Linked DNA regions of Homo sapiens. The protein of the gene in region 2 interacts with the protein of the main gene of each other region in a pairwise test. Each region holds a gene or a part of one and is shown on either strand. Other genes may lie near its edges.

What was found.
Region 1: the proteins of SLC35B1 (region 2) and PTPN5 interact in binary tests that used the Homo sapiens proteins (3 or more experiments, as listed by UniProt).
Region 3: the proteins of SLC35B1 (region 2) and FZD5 interact in binary tests that used the Homo sapiens proteins (3 or more experiments, as listed by UniProt).
Region 4: the proteins of SLC35B1 (region 2) and VAPA interact in binary tests that used the Homo sapiens proteins (3 or more experiments, as listed by UniProt).

What each region holds. Positions count from the first base shown.
Region 1 is NC_000011.10:18,788,754-18,796,718, reverse strand, and holds the start of PTPN5 (tyrosine-protein phosphatase non-receptor type 5), read left to right. Parts: upstream 1-4,920; 5' UTR 4,921-5,194; intron 5,195-7,965. UniProt on the Homo sapiens protein: May regulate the activity of several effector molecules involved in synaptic plasticity and neuronal cell survival, including MAPKs, Src family kinases and NMDA receptors.
Region 2 is NC_000017.11:49,700,443-49,704,964, forward strand, and holds the end of SLC35B1 (solute carrier family 35 member B1), read right to left. Parts: intron 3,785-4,522; coding exon 3,658-3,784; intron 2,853-3,657; coding exon 2,746-2,852; intron 2,570-2,745; coding exon 2,416-2,569; intron 1,069-2,415; coding exon 1,016-1,068; 3' UTR 501-1,015; downstream 1-500.
Region 3 is NC_000002.12:207,766,907-207,773,996, forward strand, and holds the start of FZD5 (frizzled-5 precursor), read right to left. Parts: upstream 3,001-7,090; 5' UTR 2,359-3,000; intron 2,089-2,358; 5' UTR 1,834-2,088; coding exon 76-1,833; 3' UTR 1-75. UniProt on the Homo sapiens protein: Receptor for Wnt proteins. Functions in the canonical Wnt/beta-catenin signaling pathway. In vitro activates WNT2, WNT10B, WNT5A, but not WNT2B or WNT4 signaling. In neurons, activation by WNT7A promotes formation of synapses.
Region 4 is NC_000018.10:9,917,014-9,924,074, reverse strand, and holds part of VAPA (vesicle-associated membrane protein-associated protein A), read right to left. Parts: intron 1-7,061. UniProt on the Homo sapiens protein: Endoplasmic reticulum (ER)-anchored protein that mediates the formation of contact sites between the ER and endosomes via interaction with FFAT motif-containing proteins such as STARD3 or WDR44.

The DNA.
Region 1 (7,965 bases), on a different chromosome or scaffold from region 2:
GCGAGACTCTGTCTCAAAAAACAAACAAACAAACAAACAAAAAACAAAATGAGAAAAGAAAGGAGGGAATGGAAAGAAAGTAGTATAAGCTTGCAAAAAAAAAAAGTGACATACTTTGCTACTTCAGATATACTAGTCTGTTTCTTCCCCTCTGAGATACTTATTTCAGCATTCAACAAAAATTTATTGAGTACCTACTATGTACCAGGCATTGTCCTGGACACTTAAGATATATCAATGAGCCTAACGGATGCAGATGCCCTGTGGACCTTGTATTCCAGTGGGAAAAAAACAGATATTTAACAGATATTAAAGGGTGAACATACAAAATAGATAAACTACCTAATCTATAGCTCGTAAATAAATTTATTAATATAGAATATATGTCATAAGAAATATATAAAATATGAGATAGATATTATAACATAGTTTATAAAGAAATTATCCAGTACATTAGAAGGTAAAATGTGTCATTATAAAAGAAAAGGAGAGATTGGGACTCCTGAAGGGAACGGGAGAAGGCAGGCTCTGACGTATTAGGTAGAGAGGTCAGGGGAGGCCTCAATGAGAAAATGACAGTGGAGCAAAAACTTGAAGGATATAAAGGCATTAGTTCTATGTAACAGATTGTTTCTTTTTGGCATCCCAAATGATCAGAACCAAATTTGAGGTTCAAGCACAGTACTCTAGAGGCCCCTGTGGTCTGTACGTTTGTAATCTTTTGTCCTCGAGAGGCAGGATAGGACAGTGGTTAAGGGTATCGGTTCCACTGTCAACCTGGATTCAAATACTGCCTCTACCACTTACCAGCTACGTGACTTAGGGCATCATATTTCATGTCTCCCAGCCTGAGAGAAATGCCTCCCTATGCTTCAAAATGAAGATAATAATAGTACTTACCTCACATGGCTCTTTTAAGGATTAAATGAAATAATGTACACAAATTCCTTTGCACACAAGAATAAACTCAATAAAAAAACAGCTGTGATTATTGAGCTTTGGTCATGTCACTCAACGTTTATTTACATTTTCTTTGGTCCTGATTCTTTATCCTCATTGATATTTTAACATTGTTTTATGGATCCTGCCCCTTTGGTAAGCTACTTCAAATCCTTTGTGGATTGGGGTAAGTTATAAGTAAGTAAATAAATACATAAATAAAAATCTGGATAGGGGGACATTTTCACTGAAGCAAAGCATTTCATTACCAAGACAGTGAATTGCAAGTGGGCCAAAAGCAAGAAAGATGGACTCTAATCTCTAACAGTCCACCAAGAACCACCAGTAAAACACTCTCTGGTTTCTCAGACCATCTTTTTCTCCCCATCTCCTCTTTCTTAAATCCCTCTTCTTCCCTCTATCATGAAAGGGTAAATGAGTTACACAAAACGGCTCAAGAAGACTCCTAAGTCGTCACAACCTCACAACTATTTCGTTGCCATGGGCCTCACAGGACTCTTCCTCATCAGAGAAGAGAAAGGAAATCAAAGCAGTCACTTTCCGTGTGTTGGCAGGGTGCTGGTTAAGTGAACAGAGTCAGACATAAGCTAGAATCTCGTTTAGTGAGCTCTGTGGCCTTGGGAAAGCCCCTGGACCTTTCTGTGCCTCCTATTCCTCCTTGGTAATAGCAGTCCCTCCTAAGGTGTTTTGGCAGATCAAACGAGAGAATGCAGGGAAGCAACGTGGATAGCTTATTTTTAAAGCCCTCAGAAAATGCTAGATTTCCTTCCTGAACTGCACCCTGGGGTAACACTCTTCAATAAGAGGGTGTATAGGGTGGAAACAGGGTGAGGAGACTAGTTTAGGTATATCCCTATCTGACAGAAACTCAATACAAGAAACAAAAGAAGAAAGATCTTTGTTGTTGCTGTTGCCTTACTACTTTCTAGAGGTATTGTCATACTTCTTCCTTCCCATAGCCCTTTAAGATGGGCATTATTATCCACATGTGACAGCTGGGGCTGGGCTTTGAACCCAGAGCACACAGCTAGGAATGTTTGCGAGGCACCGCTAGCTTTCCGAAGTTGCCTTTACAAGGGCAGCCATTAGCCTCCACCACAGGACATCAGAGGCAGCACTGACAGGAACCTGTGAGGCCCCAGTGCACCTGGAGTACCATGACTCTGTGACCCCTGAGCTGGGGACATCAAGAATCTGGGCCAGGCTGATGCCACTGAAGCTCTCTAAGCCCTACTTTCTCCCCTTCCTTCCATCAGCCCAAAGGGCTTTCATGTTAAGGCATCCCTGCTTCTGTGACCACGTGCTATGGAACTGGCTAGATCTGAATTTGAAACACACACCTCTTAAGTGACCTTAAGTAACTCACTTATTCCTTCTGCTTCCTCTACTGAAATTGGGGATGTCAAAAGGCCTACCTCCCACAGATGTCATGAAGATTCAATAGAGCAGTGCCTTGAGAAAACACAAAACACTACCTGGCACATACTAAAGTGCCCATGTATAGTAGCTGCTATTGTTCAACTGATGCAGCCTGGAGAAATCAGCCTCATGCCGAACCATGGTGATGATGCTCTCGGGGGGTAGGGAGCAGGTCCTGGCGTACAGGCTGAAATGTCTACTCACACTTCCACACAACCCAAGCAGTATGGCCTTTTTACCCAATATATAATCCTCCCCCACCCCACAGGAAACTCCTTGAGGGCAACACAGGGACCTAATTGGGTCTAGGTCTCTAGGTCTTTTCCTAGGGGAAAAAAAAAAAAAAAAGACCAATTGAGGCCCAGCCTAGGGCCTCCCAATCAGTGCCGTTGATCCACAAACATGTGCTGATGGGCCCTTCTGTGCTGGGAACTGGGGAAAGGGAAGACACCCCGCCCTACTTTCCAGGAGTTCATAGTGCACCTGGGGAAAAAGAGAAGGAACCACTATCACAGCAGACAGAAAGTAATGAGAGCTGAGTGTCCCTGGAAATGTGGGGAGAAGGAGGTGGTATTTAAGCTGGACCTTAAAAATTAGTCAAGACATGGGAGGGATGGCATTCCAGACTGAACAGGGACAACGTGAACAAAGGCCTAGAGACAGGAAAACACAGGGTTTGTTTAAAAAACAGATTAGTGAGGTGAGGCTGAAGGATTGGGATGGGAGGGGATTGAGATGGGAGCTGGCAATGAAGCCAGTGAGCCTCAGGGGCAGGGAACAGAAATAAAAGTCATAGCTGCATGGAGAAAATGAGGAGGGAGGGCCAGCAACTTTAAACAGGATAGTTACAGCAATTATCTTAGAAGCGACACATTGAGCCTGGGCAGGGTGGCTCACGCCTGTAATCCCAGCACTTTGGGAGGCCAAGACGGGCGGATCATGAGGTCAGGAGTTCGAGACCAGCCCGGCCAACATGGCGAAACCCCGTCTCAACTAAAAATACAAAAATTAGCTGGGCATGGTGGCGGGCGCCTGTAGTCCCAGCTACTCGGAAGGCTGAGACAGGAGAATCGCTTGAACCCAGGAGGCAGGGGTTGCAGTGAGCTGAGATGGAGCCACTGCACTCCAGCCTGGACGACAGAGCAAGACTCCGTCTCGGGGGCGGGGGGGTGGGGGGAGTGACACTTTGAAGAGGTAAAGGAGTAGCCGTGTGACTATCAGAGGGAAGAGTTTCCAGGCAGACAGACCAGCAGTGCAAAGGTCCTGAGGCCACAGGGCTGCCACGCCGATGATGCATTAAAAAGGCCAATGTGACTGGAGCGTGGGAGAAGGGGGAGGGTGGTAGAAAGAGAGGTTAAAGAGCTAAAAAGGAGCCAGTTCCTGAAGGGCTTTGCAGGTCATGAGGGGCCTTTAACTTTCCCTTGGATGAAATGGAGTGCTAGTGTAGGATTTCCAGTAAAGGAACGACGTGCTCTGACTTAAATTTTAAAGGATCGCCTTGACTGCTGTGTAGAGAATCAGCTGCAGGGGGCCAAGGGTGGAAGCTGGGAGACCAGTAAAGAGACTATAATGGAAATCCCGGGGGGCGGGGGTGGATGGTGGCTGGAACCAGGGTGGTAGCTACGTGGTGGCTCGCCTCTGATTCCCCGTGTAAAAAATGGAGTTTAGGATCCCTGCCCTGTGTGCAGCCCACAGCCTCAAGCCCCCATGGGGATGGAATGCCGGAAACCTCTGGCCAGCGCACTAGCAGCCTGGAGAATACGGAAGATTGTGGCAGGATTGTGGGGCACATGGGCAGCTCCCTGCTCGTCCGGGCCCCTGGTGCCCACGAGAAAACCAAAACAGGTGCGTGCCCCGCGCCGCACGTCAGGAGGGCAAGACTCAGTGGAGGGAGGGGCTGTCCACTCGCTCTAGCTCCCCAGAGGCTGAACAGGGAGAACTGGGAAAAAGGACGCCTCCTCAGCGTCCTAGAACGAGTCCTCGGCACCTGGTATTGCATGCGCCCTAGTATGGGGCCGCTCCACTTGCGCAGGTGTTGGCAACATGCGGGGAGCGCCACGGCATGCCCCCAATGAGCCGACTCCCTCCCCCAACTCTGCCCCCTTTGTCTCGCTGGCCCCTACTCCTTCTGTCTGCCTGTCTGTCCCGTCCCAGGTTCAGCGCGCACGGCCCTGCCGGGGTCCCTCTGGCAGTTGCCGTAGCCGCGCGGCCCGACCCGGGGCTCCCAAGAGGAGAAAAAATCATGAATGAAATGGATGCGCTGCTCCCACTCCTCCGCCCTCCTTGTCCAAGCAACCTTGGCATGGGGGCGACGACTGCGGAGACTCCGCGCAGAGTTGCTCGGGAGAGGGAGGCACCTGAGATGAGGTCAGGGGTTAAGGGTCTGTGATCCGGCCCCCTTCGTGCCCCGGGAGCAGGCCGCTCTCCCGGTCCCCCGCCCCGCCAGCCCTGCGCAATTCCCGGCGAGCGGCGGAAGCCCGCCCGGGGGCGGGGCGGAGCCGGGGCTGGGGGGTGCCAAACCCACCCGGCGGCTGCGCCAGCGACTCTGCAGCTGAAGCGCATTTGGTGAGGCGGTCGGGCGAGGGAGCGCGCACGGAGCGCGGGACGGAGCGCCAGGCGGACGGACCGAAGGACGGAGGCACCGAAGGACGGACGCCCCCGCACACGCAGACGCACAGAGCTCGGCGCGGCCCCCGTCGCATACACACTGGCACAGACACAAGCAGGGACACACGCAGACACACGCACACTCGCGCGCGCATCCTCCCGCCAGCCTGCCCGCCTGCTCGCCGGCGCCCGGAGCCCGCTCTGGCCGGTAAGTGCGGCGCCTCCGTCTGCGCCTTTGTGTGCGGAGCCGGAAGGTGGAGGGCGCGGGTCCCTCCTTCGGGCGGCCCCGCAACTGACACCTTCTCCAGCCCTCCCGGCCGAGGAGCCGGCGCCCGCCCCCGCCACGCCCCCGTGGGGCTCTGGGCGCCCGCATGCTGGGGGAGGGGTCCCCCATGCAGAGGAGGGGGCTTGTCGCTTGGTAGCCGGGAGGGAGCGGCAGCCACTCCCCACGAAGCCCGTGCGCGGTTCCGGGGAGGAATCGGGATAGTGGTTTGGGGTCTGAGCCTCTGCGGCCGGCGGAGGCTGGTGCGCGGCTCTGGGCTGCATCGCCTCTCCGGAGCCTGAAGCCCCTGAGGGAGATTGGAAATCGCCGCTAGCCTTCTGGCCTCTAAAGCGCGGCTCCCAGCCTTCCCATTGCTTCGCCTCCACCGACCCTTTAGCTTTAGCCTCCCGCGTCCCACCCTCCCCTAGAATACAAGCTTAGCGCGCTCCCCTCCCCCAGCATGCTGCTTGTTTCTGGTTGAGGCCCAGGCTCCTGCAAAACCGGAGATTGCCCGGGTCAGAGCCTTGGGAGGCTTACCTTATCAAGGATCACAGGGCTTAGAAGATCAGGGCCAGACGAATCCTGGGAACTTATTCAACCTTCTCATTTTACAGATGGGGAAACTGAGGCCCAGTAAGGTGGCGGACCAAGGTCACCAGAGAGTTAGTGGTAAAGCTTTCATTAGAATCTAGGGTTCCTGGTTTTCATACTCATGCTCCCCTCCTACACAACTAGATCCCACCCACATTGAAGCCCCAGAACCCCAAAATTCACCTGAGTGTACCACGAAAGTGTGTAATTCCAGCCCTGCCCCACTTGGAGGGGCAGGTGCCATTCATTTTCTACCTTCCCTACCTATGGTACCAAAAAAAGGGGAGAGGGGGCTTTAATTTGCTTCCTTCAACCTCAAAGGAGAGCTCTCATAACACTCAAACACTCCGGGTTTGGGATTCGTTTGGGAGAATGAAGAAGCCCAGGACCTGAGATCAGATTCCCAGGCGTTAGTCCTGATCCACCCAGGACACACTGAGCCTGAGTGTCCTCAGTTGGACCAGGTGATGTGGCATCCCAGGATTCGTCCTCTTCTCCACTGTGTCCTGACTGCATGCCCTCCCAGTCACCCTTCCCTCCCGCTTGAGGGCCAGATCTTCTACTCCAACCAGGCCCCTGTAGTCATCCCTTTGCGGAGGTCCCCACCTCTTTCTCCTTGGGGCTCGTTAAGGGCAGCCTCTTGGTGCTGCTGACAAAGCTGCTGGGGAAGCTTGAGTTACAATCACACCAGGTTCGGGTGGTTTCTCAGCACGCGGCTCCCTCAAGGGCAGCCAGGTGTCCCCAGAGCTGAGCCTGATGCCTGGTGCAGAGAGGGTGCCCCGAGAGATGTGTTGAAGGAGTACAAGCATAGACGGATGGTGAAGGGATGGAGTCAGTCACCTTGGAGGAGACTGGATGGAATAGTTGGCAAGGAGGGCAGTGTTCAGTCTCCAGGGACCTGAGGTTCTGGTCTCAAGAACTTCCTTTTTTTATTTTATTTCCATAGATTTTTGGGGAACAGGTGGTATTTGGTTTCGTGAGTAAGTTCTTTAACGGTGATTTGTGAGAATTTGGTGCACCCATCACCCAGAGTATACACTGAACCCAATGTGTAGTCTTTCATCCCTCATCCACCTCCCACCTTTCCCCCAAGTCCCCAAAGTCCATTGTGTCATTCTTATGCCTTTGCATCCTCATAGCTTAGCTCTCACTTATGAGTGAGAACATACAATGTTTGGTTTTCCATTCCTGAGTTACTTCACTTAGAATCATAGTCTCCAGTTCCATCGAGAACTTCCTTTTTGAGGGGGGTGAGCAGCTCATCATGGAGCTGAGCCAGGGTGGCCAAGTGGCAGAACTTCAGGGGCTGCCACTGACAGTGTAGTCCATGTAGATGGCATTGGCTATGAAGTTTACACAGACTTCATAATGAATGGTGGCCCCTGGGTTTTTGCCATGTAGGGATTTCTGCCTTGAGAGTGAAGGGATCTGGATTCCAGTCCCAGTCTCTTCCTCACTGGCTGTACGGTGTCAGTATATAACCCTTTTGGGTCTCAATTTCTCCATCCAAAAAAATAACATCATTGGATTGATGATGTTATGAACTATTTGGCGGTGGGGTGGGAGCACGTATTTATGTAACTGCTATGGGCTTCTTTTGCTTTATGAAGGAATAATTTCTGACTCAAGAATGATGTATGTAGAGTACTTAGTACAGTCCCTAACACATAGAAAATGCTCAGGAATTGGTAGCTAGTAATTCCACTAGGACTCCAGCTTTGTGGATATACCCTATACTTCTTCCTTTCTTCAGATCATCCAAGGACATGGGATTCTTAAGGCCTCAAAGTCCTCCTCCCTCAAAAAATTCCTTTCCCCCTGACCTATTCCTGGACTTCAGGCTCAGCCAGCATAAAACATCTGTGAAAACTCCCTGGGAGGATCAACACTTTTGTTTATTCAACCTTTTGTACGTTAGCGTAATAGAATTTCATAATTAATTTGTATGTAGTGTCAAAAGCTCTTCCTATACTCTGTCACTTACTCCTCATAAGACATCCGTGACAATAGTGTTATCATCCTCATTTTGCAGATAGGGAAATTAAGGCTTGGATTTTCACTTATCTAAGGGTGCATACCTCAAAAGTCTCAGATCCAGAGAGCTAGGCCTCCAGCTCAGATGATCT
Region 2 (4,522 bases):
CAGCATCCCTTTCAACAGGCAGAAGCTGGCATGGTGACACCTTGGCACAGCAAAGGATGGCAGAGGACTGCAATGCTTCAGCAGCTGGAGGAGGCAGGGGAATAGGAGGGATTAACCCAGCCTCCCTGGAGGGGACCAGGTAGACTGAGAACAGACAGACAGATGGAGGGGGAATATCAGGAAAAGTACATCACAGACCTTCCAAAGCTGATCATGATGTATGCACTGGGTCTCCACTCTGGTCTTGATAGAGCTGTGGCTGAAGGGGAGGCAGTGGGGAAATGGCAAAACAGTAGATTCTGAAACTCTGGGTTCGTTTTACCCCAGCCTCAATGAATATTTCTTTTCTGTTTTTGATTTTTAGTGGAGACAAGGTCTAACTATGTTGTCTAGGCTGGTCTCAAACTCCTGAACTCAAGTGATCCTGCTGCCTTAGCCTCCCAGAGTGCTGGGATTACAGGTGTGAGCCACTGCACCAGGCCTAAGAAAAAGACAGAACACAACTTTGTTTTTTTAATGAAATATTTGCCCACAGGAGCTTTAGGAGAGGAAGTGACTTTTACATTCTCTGGCTCTAATGGACAGCCACCCGTCCTCTAATGGGACCAGCTCTAACGGGACAAGCCTCACCCATCGGAACAGAAGCCATTAGCACAATTCTGCGATCTCACAGAGTTCCTCCCTATAATCCTCAGGTTCTTGGAGGAATCGCCCACTCAACCATGCTAACCACACCCGTGAGAGGAGCAGCCTGGGTAATGAACATCCAGCTCTGCCTCTTCCCTCCCTCTTTTATTTACCATAGACTGCTCCAGGGCATGAAGAACAAAAACCACCACTCTGTCTTGTTAAAATCCAAGTGCATTTTTTAGAATATGTGATTTTGCTTGATTTTATTTTATTAAAAAAGACTGGAACTCAGTCCCATATTCCTATTAAGTCCATTTTCCCAAGAGATGTCACTGTTTGAGATAATAACTTAAATATTCTTGATGTGGAGGTAGTCTCTCTCTTCCTAGTGGGATGTCTTCTTAGCTCCTTTCCCAAACTTGGCATCAAGACCAAGACCTATGAAAAGGAAGAAAATGGGCTTAGCCTTATGGGGGGAAATGAAACTTACCAATGATTGTGGTGGGGTGGGGTAGTCGGCCTTGTATCTCCAAAATGGGGGCTTTAAATAAAATACATGTCAGAACACTGGTTTTATGTAACTTCCTCAGAGACAAGAGAATGGCACCAGGATACTAGTTATTACAGATATCTGTATCTATATAAATATATCTATATAGAGATACAGATAGATATAGATACATATATAATACAGCAAGACTAAAAGAAATTTAAGAGTCAAAACTTCTAGGCTATGGCTGAATGTGGTGACTCACACCTGCAATCCCAGCATTTTGGGAGACTGAGGCAGGAGGATCATTTGAGCCCAGGAGTTTAAGGCCAGCCTAGGCAACACAGCAAGACCCCATCGCTACAAAAAAAAAAAAAAAAATTGGTCAGGTATTGTGGTACATGCCTATAATCGCAACTACTCGGGAGGCTGTGGTGGGTGGATCACTTGAGTCCAGGAGATCAAGGTTGCAGTGGACTATGATCATGCCACTACACTCCAGCCTGAGCAACAGAGGGAGACCCTAGGAAGGCTGGATTAGAAATAAAGCTTCCTTTTCTCCTTTTATTTTCTTTGGATACAGATTTTCACTCTGTCACCCAGGTGGGAGTGCAGTGGTGTGATCACAGCTCACCTCAGCCTCCACCTCCTGGGCTCAAACGATCCTCCCACCTCAGCCCCGAGTAGCTGGGACCACAGGCGTCTGCCACCATGCTCAGCTAATTTTTGTATTTTTTTGCAGAGACAAGGGTCTCATCATGTTGCCCAGGCTGGTCTCGAACTCCTAAACTCAAGCGATACTCCTGCCTCAGCCTCCCAAAGTGTTAGAATTACAGGCGTGAGCCACCACACTCAGCCTCTTTTCTCTTTTAAAAAAGTTTTCTCTGGGCTGAGCGCGGTGGCTCATGCCTGTAATCCCAGCACTCTGGGAGGCTGAGGCGGGGGGAATCACCTGAGGTTGGGAGTTCGAGACCAGCCTGACCAACACGGAGAAACCCCATCTCTACTAAAAATACAAAATCATCCGGGCATGGTGGTGCATGCCTGTAATCCTAGCTACTCCGGATGCTGAGGCAGGAGAATTGCTTGAACCCAGGAGGAGGAGGAGGCTCACCCGATTGGTGAGCTGAGATCGTACCACTGCACTCACTCCAGCCTGGGCAACAAGAGCGAAACTCCGTCTCAAAAAAAAGAGAAAAGTTTTCTCTAAAATATTTAAACAAATTTCATAAATATACAAGTAAATTTTAGGAGAAAAAATTCAGCTGTCACTGTGTCTCTGTGTGGCCACTTACCCAGGAACACAAGCACAGTGCCCACCCACTGCATGGGGCTGATGGGATTGGCGAAGAGGATCACAGAGGCCAAAATTGTGAAGAACTTTCGAGTTGTAGTGATGATGGAGCAGGTCAGGGGACCAAAATACACAACCGTCATAAAGATGAAGCTCTAGAGAAAGATAAAGGTGAGGTCCGGTGGGCTTCTGGGTATCTGCCATTGGTCTAAAGTCTATAAACAGACCTCAGGGCTAATCTTGCCACCCTCTTCTTCCAGCCAGGCCAGTCTTTCTTAGGGAACCAGCTGCCAGAGTAGGGAAGCCAAGCCATCCCCTTTCAAGCACTCACCTGACCCAGGGCACTGGTCAGCCCAAAGAGCAGGATGTTATAGATGATGGCAGGGTACCTTTCAGCAAAGCTCAAGAACTCCCAGAGCTCCCCAGTGAACAGGATTCCTGAGAAGACATGTCAACAAATGTACGGCGCATTTTGTGCACACAAAATGTGCGCACACACACACACACACACACACACACAGACACTCCTGCACATGGCCTGTTAAAGAACTGCAAGGGAGGTGGGACGCGGGAAAGTGTATGGTGTGGGTTTGCATCGTCTCATCATTGATTCTTCTCATATTTTTCTCTGATTAGAGAAACTAAAGAGAATTTTGTGAGAAAGGCTTGAAAGTTAATGAGTTACTTCTACCAAAGTGATTACAAGCAGAAATCCTCAGATGCTGTAGAGATGCTGACCCACACATCCTTAGCTCAAGGAAGCCCCTCGCATTAGTCACCTTCAGCCATCAGCAGCCTCCACCATTAACCCCAGTGTGCTGTATAAAAAATACTTTCTACATGTGCCCAAATTTGAAAAGTTAGGAAGCACTGATTTCAAAGCAAATCATTCACATTTGAACTGTCTTCAGTGTACAGCTAACTCTGTTTCCTGTGAGCACTACGTGTGTCTCATTTCCCTCATGAAAGGGAAAGTTCCCAGGTACCTCCCTGTGTTTTACTACTGAGTGTCTTCCCATGACAACTGACACACGACTCTCCTTCATTGTGCCAGTAACAAGTAGCAAACAAATCCTGCTGGTGCAGGTTTTTCCAGGAAGGTTTCTCAAGGGCTTGAACAAAAGGGCATCTTGGAACTAATTCAGGCCCTTGGTCTGGGCAACTAACAGCTAGAGGGATCAAAAGGATGAGGGCAGCCTGCCCTCTGGTGATACATGGGAAGAACAGCAGAACTGGCTCTCACCCATTCCCAGCAGCAATGTCGACCAAAGGTTGATGTTCAGCATCATGTGGTTGGAGCCTGTTTGGTAATGAGCCCGCATGTGGTCCTGGGAAACACCAGTCAGTCCATCCAGGGTCAGCGATAATAGCTGGGAAAGAAAGGGTGCAGCCTGCAGTGAAGTGGCCAACAGGGCCCTTTCCAAACCCAGGACACAGGATTCTCACTCTCAGGCTCCTTGGAAAGCCACTGCCTTTAAAGTCCTCAGAACAAAACGTTGCCATTTGGTCACAGGTGGAAGGTGGGGAGAGACCATGCTCACTACCCCCCACCCCCGCCCCCCGGCCCACGCACTGGACTGACAGGCTAACTGAGCTACGTAGTGATTTTGTAATCAGAGTAGAGCAGGAAGCTCACTTCCCAACATACTGGGAGGGGAAAGGTAGTCCCAGCAGGTTAGCTTCCTAGCTTGGAGTATAGTGCTCCAGAGACCGGATCCTGTGCTTAGGCTGCCTGGATTGGAATCCTGACTCTACCACTTCAAATAGCCAAGTGACCATGGGCAAGCGAGTTAACTTCTCTGTGCCTAGTTTCTTCATCTGTAAAATGGAGATAATACTACATATGAGATTATTGTTGTAAAAATTAGTCAATTAACATGTAAAACACTCGGAACAGTGCCTAATGCATACATACCAGCTACTATCATATTATTTTAAACTCTGGCTTCCAGGTTTCTTGGAAAGCCACAGTGAGAGACATTATTCCTTCCCTCTTTGCTCTCAGGTCTCTGTGACCTCACACCAGGATTCAGCCACAACCCTCAGAGTTATCTCTTCTCCAGAATGAGAGCTGAGTTGTAGTTAAATATTTCAGGTTTCCCACTATG
Region 3 (7,090 bases), on a different chromosome or scaffold from region 2:
TGACCTTGGCAAAACTACCAAACAAAACGCCCCCCTCCCCTCAGCTCTCCGGCCGAGTCCCTCGGCGGCAGCCTCCTACACGTGCGACAGGGACACCTGCTTGTGGTAGGTGGCGGCGGGGCCCGGCGGCCCGGTCCTGCCTGTGAGCGCGGCGCTCGCCTCGGGGTAGTCCCCTGCGGCCATGGCGCCCCCGCTCTTGTGGCCGCGCCGCGGGCGGCAGCAGCAGCGGCTGGTGAAACGCCGCCACGACTCCACCGTCTTGCCCGACCAGATCCAGACGCCCGACGTGATGCCCACCACCAGGCACATGAAGTACTTGAGCATGAGCACCCAGTACTCGGGCTTGGCGCGCGGCTGGCCGGTGTCGTGGCCCGGGCAGGCGCAGGTGAGCGCCGCCTCCCAGCTCTCGCGGTAGTGCTGCTCGTACAGGTAGCAGGCCACCACAATGCTGGCGGGGACCGTGTAGAGCAGCGTGAAGATGCCGATGCGGATCATGAGCTTCTCCAGCTTGTCCGTCTTGGTGCCGCCCTGCTTGATGACGCTGCGGATGCGGAAGAGCGACACGAAGCCCGCCAGCAGGAAGAGCGTGCCCACCAGCAGGTAGAGCACCAGCGGGCCCAGCACGAAGCCGCGCAGCGAGTTCAGGTTCTGGTTGCCCACGTAGCAGATGCCGGCCACTGGGTCCCCGTCCACGGAGCTCAGCGCCAGTGCCGTGATGGACTTGACGCTGGGGATGAGCCACGCAGCCAGGTGGAAGTACTGCGCGTAGCCCGCGATGGCCTCGTTGCCCCACTTCATGCCGGCGGCCAGGAACCAGGTGAGCGACAGGATGACCCACCAGATGGAGCTGGCCATGCCGAAGAAGTAGACCAGGAGGAAGACGATGGTGCACAGTGCAGGGCCCGTGGTCTCGTAGTGGATGTGGTTGTGCTCGCGGCTGCAGGCCACGCTGGCATGGCCCACGACCAGACGCACCAGGAAGCCCAGCGACACGCACAGGTAGCAGGCTGACAGGAAGATGATGGGGCGCTCAGGATAGCGGAAGCGTTCCATGTCGATGAGGAAGGTGGCCACTGTGGTGGACGTGGAGATGAAGCACAGCACCGACCACAGGCCTATCCAGAAGGTGGCGAACGTGCGCTCGTCGGCACTGAAGGACGGCTGGTAGCAGGGTACCGCGCAGTTGGGCACCTGGCCCGTCCGCACCTTGTTGTAGAGCGGGTGTGACTCCTTCAGAATGGGCACGAAGGGCTCGCGACACTTGCACACGAACGGGCCCCCAGCGGGGCATTCGCCCCCCGAGGCCGGCGCCCCTGGCGGGCCTGGAAGGGTGGGCTTGGCTGGGAAAGGCCTGGGGGGCGCCGTGGTGGCCTCGCTGCGGTTGTAATCCATGCAGAGGACCTCGGCGTCGCGGCCCAGCACCGGGAGGCGGTCGCAGCTCATGCGCTCGGGCCAGGCGAAGCCGTACTGGCGCATCAGCGGCGAGCAGCCGGCCTTGGCGCGCTCGCACACCGAGCGGCAGGGCGGCAGCGGCTTGTGGTAGTCGGGCAGACAGATGGGCGTGTACATAGAGCATAGGAAGAAGCGCAGGTCCGGCGAGCATTGGATCTCCACCAGCGGCCAGAACTGGTGCACCTCCAGGCCCGCCTCGTCCTGCGTGTCGTGGTTGAACTGGTTGGGCATGTGCGTCAGGTTGTAGCCGATGCCGCGGCACATGGGCACCGTGATTTCCTGGCACACCGGGGCCTTGGACGCGGCGGCCGCCCGGCCCACCAGCTGCGCTAGGAGCAGCAGCAACAGCGAGGGCGGCGCGGATGGGTCAGGCCGAGCCATCGCCCCCTCCCTCCCCTCGCCTCCAGCAGCCCGCGAGGGACGCACACAGGCAGAGGAATCCGGGCCGGGGCTTCTCCCTCCGGCGTCTCGTGTGTGGCGCCGGGGCTGGCAACCTGTTGGTTGCTTTTTCCTTTAAAGAAAACCGTCCAAAGATAAACTGCTTCGGGAAGGCGCTGCCTCCGCTGGCAGCGCTCCGCTCCTCGCCGGATAGGGCTGGGGAGAGACGGTTAGGGCTCGGATTCCAGGGAAAGGACTCTTTAAAAAAGAAGGGGGAGAAGAAAGATTGCAACCACTCCCTGTTGGAGAGGCGTCAACAGTTCGGTCCCCGCGAGCTGTCTCCAAATCTCTTAAGTTAACCCCTTTCCTTTCCTCCCCGCTCCGCCTCCTGTAACCAAACTACCGACTCCCCCACCCTCTCTTTCCAAGCTGGGCCCTTCAGGCAGTGCCCGGAGACCAGAACCCTCAGCTTCCCGGAAAAGGGCACAGGAAACGGGAGAAGAACAGGGAGAAAGGGAAGGTTCTCACCTCCACGGATCCCGCCGAGAAGAGCAGACAGTCCCCAGCCAGCCTGGGTCCTCCGTCCCTGGGTCACTCCGCTGAGAAGCGCGACTCAGAGCCGGGCTGGCGCCCGGAAAGTTTAGCGACAGGCTGGGTACCCGTGGCAGCGGCACATGGCAGCAGGTGGGGGCGACTCAGAGTGGGGGGCGCCCCCAGAACAGGGGCGGCGCAGGCCGGTCACTCGCCCTCTCCTCCTCGGGAGCCCCCCGCATGATCCAGACGGAGCCGGGCAGGGGCAGGCCGTGCGTTCTCCCCGGGGCCGGGAGCCGGACGGAGGGCGAGCGCGCCTGGCAGCACCTGGGCGGGAGGAAGGCGGGAGGCGGGGGCCGTGGGACCCCGCCGCCTCACAGCACCGCGAGCAGCCGGCGCTGGCCAGGCCGGGACTGCATGGTGAGCGCCGGCCGCCGCGTCCCGCCCGCCGCTCGCCTCCTCCCCTGCAGGGGGCTCCGCGCTCCAGTGGACTCCTGGGGGCGGTGGCGACGCTCTCGGGACGTGCCCTGCTCGGCTCCTCCCCCGCGCTCTCGCACCCTTTCGCCCACCTCTGGCGAGCACGGAACCGCGCGCGGCGGCGACCACAGCGGACTCACGGCCGCAGGCTGGCTGCCCTCTCCCGCCCCGCCCGGGTCACCTGCTTCTAATGCCCGCCGGGAAGCCCCGCCCCGGCTCCGCCCCCTCAGGCCCGGGCGCGGTTGGTGGGCCGCCTCGCCAAGCTCTCCGCGCGTCCCCGCCCACTGCCCCGCGGGCTCGGCCTTTCCCCCGGCGCCCTCTGGCCCCGCCAGGAGCGGGCAGCCAAGGAGCGCTGACCAATCGCGGGCCTGGAGGAGATGGGGGCGGGGCGAATGCTAATCATGCCGCTCTGGGCACCCGGGCGGGAAGCCCTTGCCAGAAGTCCCTCCGGAGTTCTCTGCCCGCGCCCTGGGTGCAGGACTCGCTCCTGTAACTTCCTGGCTTATGCACCTTTGCTCCCAGGGCCCCTGCCCTTTCTGCCTGCAGCTAAGCGTCCTTACAGAGTTCAGTGCTTCTTTGAAAGAACTGCTCAAGGAATCACTCTTAGGCGTGGCTGTCTCCCTTCCGAGCTGTCTTGGAACTGTGTGAAAGAAGAGAGGATACTTACTGAGCCCTTTACTGTGTGCCCAACAAAGTGTTAATCGGTTACATCCTTTTTTTTTTTTTTTTTTTTTGAGACGAGTTGTTCTGTCTCCCAGGCTGGAGTGCAGTGGCGCGATCTCGGCTCACTGCAACCTCTGTCTCCCGGGTTCAAGCGATTATCCTGCCTCAGCCTCCTGCGTAGCTGGGATTACTGGCGCCCGCCACCACGCCCAGCTAATTTTTGTATTTTTGGTAGAGACGGGCTTTCACCATGTAAGGCTGTTCTCGAACTCCTGACACCGTGATCTGCCCGCCTCGGCCTCCCAAAATGCTGGGATTACAGGTGTGAGCCACCGCGCCCGGCCCGTTTACATCTTAAGACAAGATCTCACTCCTTACAACAATTCTGAGGCAGGTACTTCCTACAGGTGAAGAAACCGAGACTGAGACTTGGCCAAGGCAACCGAGCTAATCATAGTTCCCCCAAGAAAGGGCGACCTCGGCAAGCAAGTTCACCTCCGTATTCCGATCACCTGGCACATAGTAGCCGCCCAAATGGCAACCCTGGGATTCGAACCCAGGTAGTTGGTCAGCGGCACTCACCATCGTAGCCGCCCCTCCCCCCATACTATCGCAGCCTCCCTGGCTTCGACCTTTACTTTTGCATCTCTTAACAAAATCTTGTTGTGACAAGAAAATGGATTTCTTTCTGCCTTTAGAAGACCCAGAAAGATGTGAGTCCTTTATTGGTCGAGGTTTATAATCCCAGGCAGTTCCGAAGTCGCCCGCAGAGAGAAGCGATACCGACCCAGGGTTCTGTGCTGGGCAGGGCGCCGGCCTCCCCGTGCCCTTCCGTCCCCGGCTGCCTGCTGCTAAGCCGCGCACTTGCGCGCCGCGGGGGGTCGGAGGGCGCACCGATGGCGGGGACACGGCGGCGCTCTTCAGTTGCGCAATTATGCTACAAGTTTTAAATGTCCTAAAAATGCCTCTTTTCTATGTGTTGTAATTAGATTGGAAGACTGAGGTATTTAGCATACTTGAAATACATTCACACGCCTAGGAAGAGGGTTTAAATTTTTTCCTTCTCCCCAAACTTTTCCTTCCACTGGGCAAAGGGCGAAAATAGGCAAGAGGGCCTGGGGACACTTGAAGGGATAGGGACTGGACTAACTGGACTAGATCCAGATCAACCGCGGGTTACTGTCCATCTCCTGTGCTGGATCCCATTGGCACAGGTTGGAAGAATAAATTGCGGAAGTGCCACTCCCCTCCTGCGTATCAACAACGCTTTGTGGGCAATAATGAAGAACACGTGTGTTAATCCCAGCCTCCAAGTTAAAAAGGAACAAATATCAATCACTTCGCGGATATCAAAACTATTAATAAACGTTTAAAAGGCCGGGCGCCATAGCTCACGCCTGTAATCCTAACACTTTGGGAGGCTGAGGTGGGAGGATGGCTTGAACCCAGGAGTTTGCAGACCAGCCTGAGCAACATAGCAAGACCCCCAACTCTAAAATACATAATTAAATAAATGAATAAATATACCTTACATCTTTCTTTCTCTGGAATTCTACAGGTGTTCATATTTTATCTCTTGTGTTTTGGAATTACTTGCCACTCTGGGTCAGGAAGCATCCCAGGGTTGAAAATAGTGGGAGTTGAAAAGCTGTGGGCATAGCAGTGAGCAAGAAAGGGAAGCCCTCAGTGGAAAGTATGTGCAGACTATGAACATGCCAAGGGAGGCCCATCTCATTCTGTGCTCTTTATGCAACGTGTGTATTACTGGGGATGGACAAGTGTTGGCTAATAATAAAAATTATTTGAAGTTGGAGAATGTTAATCACTCACACTGGAATTTAGCCAGAATATTTGTGTTATTTCACACGGTTCTGTCAGAGGCATTTGAACCAGAGCGACTCCATCTTGGATAGGGACTGGGTAAAATAAGGCTGAGACCTACTGGGCTGCATTCCCAGGAGGTGAAGACATTCTAAGTCAACAGGGTGAGATAGGAGGTCAGCACAAGATACAGGCCATAAAGACCTTGCTGATAAAACAGGGCGCAGTAAAGAAGCCGGCAAAAACCCAGCAAAACCAAGATGGCCAGGAGAGTGACCTCTGGTCGTCCTCACTGCTTATTGTAACTTAATTATAATACATTAGCATGCTAAAAGACACTCCCACCAATGCCAAAGCAGTTTACATTTTACAGATGCCATGGCAACCGTCAGGAAGTTACCCTGTATGGTCTAAGAGGGGGAGGAACCCTCAGTTCCGGGAATTGCCCGCCCCTTTCCCGGAAACTCATGAATAATCCACCCTTTGTTTAGCATATGATCAAGAAATAACCATAAAAATGGGCAACCGGCGGCCCATGCCGCTGCTCTGTCTATGGAGTAGCCATTCTTTATTCCTTTCCTTCTTTTTTTTTTTTTTTTTTTTTTTTTTTGACAGTCTTGCTCTGACGCCCAGGCTGGAGTGCAGTGGGGGTGCAAGCTCGTCTCACTGCAACCTCTGCCTCCTAGGTTCAAGCAATTCTTGTGCCTCAGCCTCCCAGGAAGCTGGGATTACAGGCCTACGCCACAACACCCTGCTATTTTTTGCATTTTTAGTAGAGTCGGGGTTTCGCCATGTTCACCAGGCTGGTCTGGAACTCCTGGCCTCAAGTGATCCGCCCGCCTCGGTCGGACTCTCAAGGTGCTGGATTACAAGCATGAACCACCTCGCTCGGCCCTTTCTTACCAAACTTGCTTTCACTTTACTCTATGGATTCGCCCGGAATTCTTTCTTGCATGAGATCCAAAAACCCTCTCTTGGGGTCTGAATCAGGACCCTTTTCCAGTAAAGGTTCTGAAGAAAACAATGTTATCTACTGGTTTGTAAACCTTTTCTTCATCAACAGCAAAATCTTAATTTTACTTGGAGATCTCTAATAATAATAGTGATAGCAGAGAACTTTATGGAAAGAAACTTATTTCAGCTGGGCAAGGTGGCTCATGCCAGTAATTTCAACGCTTTGGGAAGCTGAGGCAGGAAGATCACTAGGGCCCAGGAGTTCAAGACGAGCCTTGGCAATATAGTGAGACCTCATCTCTAAAAAAAAAAAAAAAAAAAAAAAAAAGGAGAGAGCAAGACATTTTATATCGTATATGTTTTTGTATTGTATTGTGTTGCTTTTTGTCTATATTTTGAAGGCACTTTAAAATATGCTGGCTGTTTAACATGTATTAGGCAGGGTGCTAGACGTCGTTTAATCCTCAGATGAAGAAACTGGTGCTATAATGACTTTGATGACTTGCTTGAAGTTATTTATTTAGTCTATGGAGTCAAAAACTTTCACACACCGTGATGATGACAGTTCAGTAACAACATACTGTAAATGAAAATTGCTAAGAGAGTAGATTTTAAGTGTTCTCACCACACAAAAATAATGAAAAATATGTAGAGGTAATGCATATGTTAATTAGCTCAATTTACCCATTCTAGAATGTATACATATGTCAGAACATCATGTGGTACATCATAAATATATACAATTGTTATTTGTCAATTAAAAAATAAAATATCTCACAATTTTCACCTGAGTCATACTTTATTACCCAACAAA
Region 4 (7,061 bases), on a different chromosome or scaffold from region 2:
TATAAAAAGTTTATCAAAATGTTAACAGAGGTTATTTTGTGAGATTGAGTAATTTTTATTGGCTTTATAATATCTCCCATCCAAGTACTAACCAGACCCTGCTAGCTTCCGAGATCAGACGAGATGGGGCGCGTTCAGGGTGGTATGGCCATAGACAGCTTTATAATATCTATACTTTTTCCATTTTCTAATTTAGCACTGATTTTATATAACAAGGGACTTTTAAACATGTACCCATAGTAGCTTAATTTGCTTATAAATCCTCTTACTTGTAAAATCCTGGAAGAAAAAACTGAAAAAATTCAGAACCACAGATTTTTTGGGGATCTGTTGTTAGTGAGGTTTTTCTCAGTGGGAACAGTACTCAGAAAACAAGACCAAGAGATTCTGGCCCTACAGGCTTTAAAAAGTAAAATTTTTTCACAGGAAAAACTAAACAGGAAACACTGTATGATTTAAAGGCACCCTATGTCTTTAAAGTATGACAGTCACTCCATGTCATATTATTCAAGAATTAAAATTATATACATATTCATATACACTTCACACATATACACACATACATGAAACATACAGCTACAAAAGAGCTGTCAAAACATAGGCCCATGAGAAATTTGTCAAGTTATACTATAAACATACGTTTAAAAGTCCTCTCATAGCAACAATTCTTTTTTAATTAACATCCCTACTTTTTAACGGTAATTCAATCTAATCATTTCCTTAAAATGCTAAAAGTTTAAAAGTCCTCTCATAGCAACAATTCTTTTTTAATTAACATCCCTACTTTTTAACGGTAATTCAATCTAATCATTTCCTTAAAAAGCTAAAAGATACGTAACTAAACTTCTCACTCCTTTAAATCTGAATTTTCAGAACAGTATCAAACATTAGTGATAACTAGTTATAAAGAACATCCAAACACCAGAGAAAAGCAGCTAAGCATGCTATGGTATATTAATGATGCATAAGTCAGCAAAAATGATACGGAGGTTTCTTTTATAAGCATTGAAGACACTAGTTTAGACTTTTTATAAAGTGAAATATGTGTTACAGAATAACAATTACAAAGTGAAATATGTATAACAGATTACAGAATTTATTTTTTATAAAGTGAAATGTTAAAGAATAATGTGTTACAAATATGGCTTCAGAAAATATCAAATTCAATCTCATTTAAGCAAAGAATATTTTATTATTAAAAAAACCCATACTGAAGAGTTCATCATAAAGATGTAAGCAATTCAATGGCACAGGAAATGAAGTATAACTGGCATCACAGGAAGAGGCTGTATTCAAGAGAAACTAATTCCTGGGATCAAAAGACCTCTCTGCCTACGTTTCTCTGCCTTTTTTCTCTCAATTAGTTGCTTCTGCTTGCCACTGGTCCAAATTAGCCACTGTTTTGTCTCCCAGTCCATATGACCTTGAAGGTCTGAAACCTATAACCATCTATTTATAGTTGTGTTTCAAGGTGAGCCATCAAAATTTTGACTGGTCAGTCACCAGCATATATATTGGCTGGCCTTGAATCTAGATTATAAACAGCCTCTTCCTGTGAGACCAGGTATACCTGATTTCCTATGCCATTGAGATTGCTCATTAATAAACTCTTAAGTGTGATTTTGTTCTTTGTAATAGACTAAATATTAGAGGATATCAAAGAATTACTGTTAATGTTATTACGTGTTAACAGTATCATGATTATGCAAAGAAAATGTCCTTTTTTGGTTATAAATGCAAACTCAAGTATCTAGGGATGAAATGTTATGCTATCATTCAGGATTTGTTTTAAAAATACTGAGGCAGGCCAGGTATGGTAGCTCATGCCTGTAATTCCAGCACTTTGGGAGGCTGAGGCAGGAGGATCGCTTGAGGCCAGGAGTTCAAGATCTGGCTGGGCAAAATAGCAAGACTGTCTCTACAAAAAATAAAACATATAATAATTAGCTGGGCACAGTGGCATGCACCTGTAGTCCTAGTTACTCAGAAGGATCGCTTGGGCCCTGGAGTTCAAGGCTGCAGTGAGCTATAACAGCACCACTGCACTTCAGTCTGGTGTCAGAGTGAGACCGCTGCAAAAAAATACAAACATGGAGGCAAACAAAAATATATAAATAAACACGTATGATTATAGTAAAATGTCAATTATTAAATTTATATTTAAATTTAATTTACTAAATTAACGCATACTGAGGTTCATATTATAAGGTGCTCATGTTTGAAAGTTTTCAAACGTTTAAAACTTACTAATTTAAAACTAATTTGAGTCACATTTCAGTTATAAAATGAATTAAACCAGTAAACAAGCATTTGCAAGTTAACAGTCCTCTCGCACATTTAATTTTTTTCCAAAACTAACTTTATGATCAAAAGAGAGCAAGATCCATCCTGTATCAACTTCCACCTCTGAAAGGCAAATAAGATTTCACTAAATGGTCAGTAAAGGTAAGATAAAAAGAAACTATGTTGAGATGATGCATATGTCAATTTGCTTCACTATAGTAACCATTTTACTATCTATATGTATCCCATAACATCATGTTATATGTATACCTCAAATATACACAATGAAATCTTTTTAAAGGATTAAAAGTATAGTTTTCCCTATTCTTTATATGCATTTTTCTGCTTCACAGAAAAATAGCATTTTCTTTTTGTACTCAATTGTCATATATTCACACAAACTTTTAAAGACAGAACACCCAAGAAATCACCTAGTCCTAACCTCTTACTTTACAAATGAAAAAAACACAAACATCAAACAACCTACCTTTAGGGTTAGTCAGCTCTTTACAAAATAGCCTACCACCCCTTTTCTGGAAGTACAAAATTTTGAAAGCACTATTACCTGCAAAAGCAGGTGAAAACTCCAACTGAGTCAAGATCCAAGACCAAAAAATAAAAATTACTGGAGAAATCATCTGAGTCTTATTAATTCAATCAACACTTACTGGGCAATCATTTTATGATGCCAGAACTTGTTACTACAAACATTAACAGGTATATACTCAGAGTTCATAGTATAGTTTGGGAGGGGAGAATATGTAAGCCTAACTACTATCTAATGTGAAAGTACTGTTATTACAGGTAAGCACAAGCTTCAACAGTGGCATGAAGGCTCTGACCAACTTGGACTGGTAGAGTATCAACGACTTCTCAAGAGGAAGTGATTCTTGAAATAAGAGGCTGCCTGACAGACGTGAGGGAGGACAATATTCTAAGCAGAGCCTGTGCAAAGCATTGCAGTGGCCTGGAGTGTTTGGGAAAATGGTTTCATATAGCCAAAGTTATGGACAGAAGAAAAAGAATAGACACTGAGGCTGGAGAGTTAGGCAGTGGATTTTGGATTTTTCAAGTACATAGTAAGAAAACATTTAGAGTTCTTCAATCAAGGGACTAACAGTAACAGCCTCCTTTTTCCAAAGCGTAGTTCCAGCAGCAGTGTGGAGGACAGGGTAAAGAGCTGACAATAAAGGAGGCTGGGCACAGTGGCTCACGCCTGTCATCCCAACACTTTGGGAGGCAGAGGCAGGTGGATCACTTGAGGTCAGGGAGACCAGCCTGGCCCACAGGGCAAAACCCCGTCTCTACTAAAAATACAAAAATTAGCCAGGCATGGTGGTGCACGCCTGTAATCCCAGCTACTTGGGAGGCTGAGGCAGGAGCATCGCTTGAACTCGGGAGGCAGAGGTTGCAGTGAGCCGAGATAGCGCCACTGCACACCACCATGGGTGACAAAGCGAGACTCCATCTCAAGAAAAAAATGAAAGAAAGAAAGAAAAGAAAAGGAGATGTCTGCTGACTAGTAAATATAAAAGGACCTGAAGTAAGGAAATTATCCAAAGCCCAGACCTTTTCTTAAGTAACACACCCATTTAACCAAATCCACCTTCATGTTAATATCCTGAAAGACCTAAACATATCTACCATACGTCCTCCTCCTCCATCTCTCTCACACACCCCCAAATAAGATGCATTTCGTCCTCATCCAGACATCCACCGTTTCTCAAATAGCACCACCATTTCCCCAGTTATATAAGCAGAAATCTCAGACATTCATACCCTTTTCTCTCAGTGCACATAGAGACCACCAAGTCTCACAGATTCAACCTAACTTTTCATCACCTCCAATACCATGACCTCAGTCCAAGGGGTCACCACTTGCCAGTACTGCTGCAGCCGCCTAATTCATCTCTTTCTCCCCTCTAGTATAATTTTACATTGCTACCAGAATTATTTTTAAATGCAAATGTGATGTTATTCGATTCCCTCCATCTTTACTGCTCCTCCCCTCACTTAAAAACCCTAGTGGCTCAGGATAAAAACAAAACTCCTAACTTGACCTACTAAACCAGCACTACATTCATCTTGACTATTTTCACCACTGCCACGCCGACCTCTTTCAGTATGGTAAATGTTTCACAGTCCCTCCTGCTACCGGATATTTGAACATGCATTTTCCTTTCTTCTTCACCAGGATAACTTTTACTCATTGTTGGAATCTTAGTTCAACTGTGACAGCCTGATCGAAGACCCTTATTTTACATTCTCGTAGCACTATATAGCTCTTCAGGGGTACACTTTATTCTTCTGATTATTTTATTAGTATCTATCTCTCTTGTTAGAACTGCCCCATGAAAACATGGCTTGTGTTTCACTCACAACTGTAGTTCCAATATTTATTCATCATACCTGACATGTAGCAGATACTCAAATCTAATCAAATTAGATCCATAATTGAATGAATTTTAAAAATAAATGAATTTGGAAGTAGAAACACATTGAAGTGGACAAAGGGATTATGTCAAAAATAGAAACACAGATTTTAATTATTAGATATGCATATTGTTTCTGGTGTGAGTAATCATGATGCCACTAAAAAATAAAAATAAAGCCAAGTGCAATGGCTCAGGCCTGTAATCCCAGCACTTTAGGAGGCCAAGGCAGGAGGATCACGCAAGGTCAGGAGTTCGAGATCAGCCTGGGCAACACAGCGGCACCCCCATATGTACGTAAAAAATTAGCTGGGCATGGTAGCATGCACCTATAGTCCTAGCTATTCAGGAGGATCACTTGAGCCCAGGAGGTCACGGCTGCAGTGAGCCAAGAACGTGCATGCCACTGCACTCCAGGTTGAGCAACTGAGCAAGACCCCATCTCAAAAATAAAAATAAAAAATATGGGAAGAAGAGTAGGCATGGGTAGTAAAAATTTTGAGATATTTTGAGTTTAGAATATCATATCTGTGCAATATTCAAATCTAAATAGTGAATAAGTTGTTTGAGTATGTGCTCTTGACTGACGGTAAAATGTGAATTAAAACAGACTTGGGGGTGTAGCAATACCTGCAGAGAGCAAGGAAGATAAAGAGAAAACCTCAAAACAATGAAATGAACAAAGAAAGTTCACAGAGTGAGATAAATGAAACCAAATCAGAATCTCAGAAACATGAGCATTTGAGGAAAATGCCACAAATAAGACAATAAATGGAGCAAATAAGAAAATTAGAAGACAATGCTGTTATAGAAGCCAGAAGAATTGAGGGTTTTTTTTAGAGAAACTGTCGGTACTGTCAAGAGCCAGGGGGAGGTCAAGTAAGATAAAAACTGGAAATGATTAAGTTAGCAATAAGTAGTGAGAGGATAAAAGTACCGTGGACTAAGGAGAGAATAAAAGGTGAGTAACTGGAAAAACAGTGAATATGGACTATTTTTCCAAAAAGTCTGAATGCAAAGGAAATGAAGGACAGGGAGAGACACATACTAGAAAGAGTTATGGTCAAAGAAGTACATGTCTGCTCATTTGTTTTTAAAATCAAAGACTCTGGTGTATTTATATGTTAAAACAATGCAGCCAGTGATTGAAAACCAGCAGGAAAACATCTCATGGAACATGGTCTGAGTCATAAGGAATTTTACCTTAGCCAGCAAAAATAGAGGAACAAAGAACCTTGGGTATGAGCAGGGTTTTTCTTTCTCAGGGAAGAAAGTATGGATGTGTACAGACTAACAGGTGTTACAAGAGGAAGGCACATCATGGAAGAGATGGTATGTCTTACTGAAAAAAAAAAATCTGACTTTTATTCTGTGAGCAATTGAGAGTTACCTAAAAACTAAGGAATGGAGTAATATATGATTAAAGATTACATTCATGTCTTTAGAGCCCCAGGCGTTTTGTATAGCCACTGGGAAACATGAAGAGCCGACTGGAAACACCTAAAAATGTGCTAAATATCCATCCAGAGGAGTATTCTCTAATTTCCCCCCCGCCCCGTGCTGCTTCTATGCAGATGCACTAGCTGATGTTAACACCATACGTCCCTCGATCCCTCAGAGAGCTTAATTTTCTTTGTTGATTTATTGTTATCGGCCACTCTCAACATAAGGATTTTGGTTTATTTTCGTCTCTCTCTGATCATTAAGAATATATTTGAAATTTATTTTAGCATTTTATAAACTTTCTTCTTCAAACTTTTCTACAAAACTGCTAATAGGGGTCAGGTGCGGTGGCTCACGCCTGTAATCCCAGCACTTTGGGAGGCCAAGGCAGGCGGATCACCTGAGGTCAGAAGTTCGAGGCCAGCCTGGCAAAATCCCGTCTCTACAAAAAATTCAAAATTAGCTGGGCATGGTAGTGCATGCCTGTAGTTCCAGCTACTCTGGAGACTGAGGCAGGAGAATTGCTTGAACCCGGGAGGCAGAGACTGCAATGAGCCGAGATCGAGCCACTGCAACAGAGCAAGACTCCGTCTCAAAAAATAAAAAAATTTAAAAAAACTGCTAATAGGTAGAAAAATAAAATGTGTAATACATTATAAATGGAATTTTATCATGTAAAAAATTTTAAAGACAAAAAAAATCTTTCACATAAAATACCAAGTTTCAAATCTGAAATCTAGGTAAAATTACTTCCAAGGTTTAAACAGAATTTGAAGTAAAGCAGCGTCTACTTCTTTTTCTTTACTAACACAAGTGATCTACTTCAGAATTCATTACATCGTAAATGCACTTTTATATGTTAACGACTGTATAAAACAAACTTTTTTTTAAATACTGAGGTAT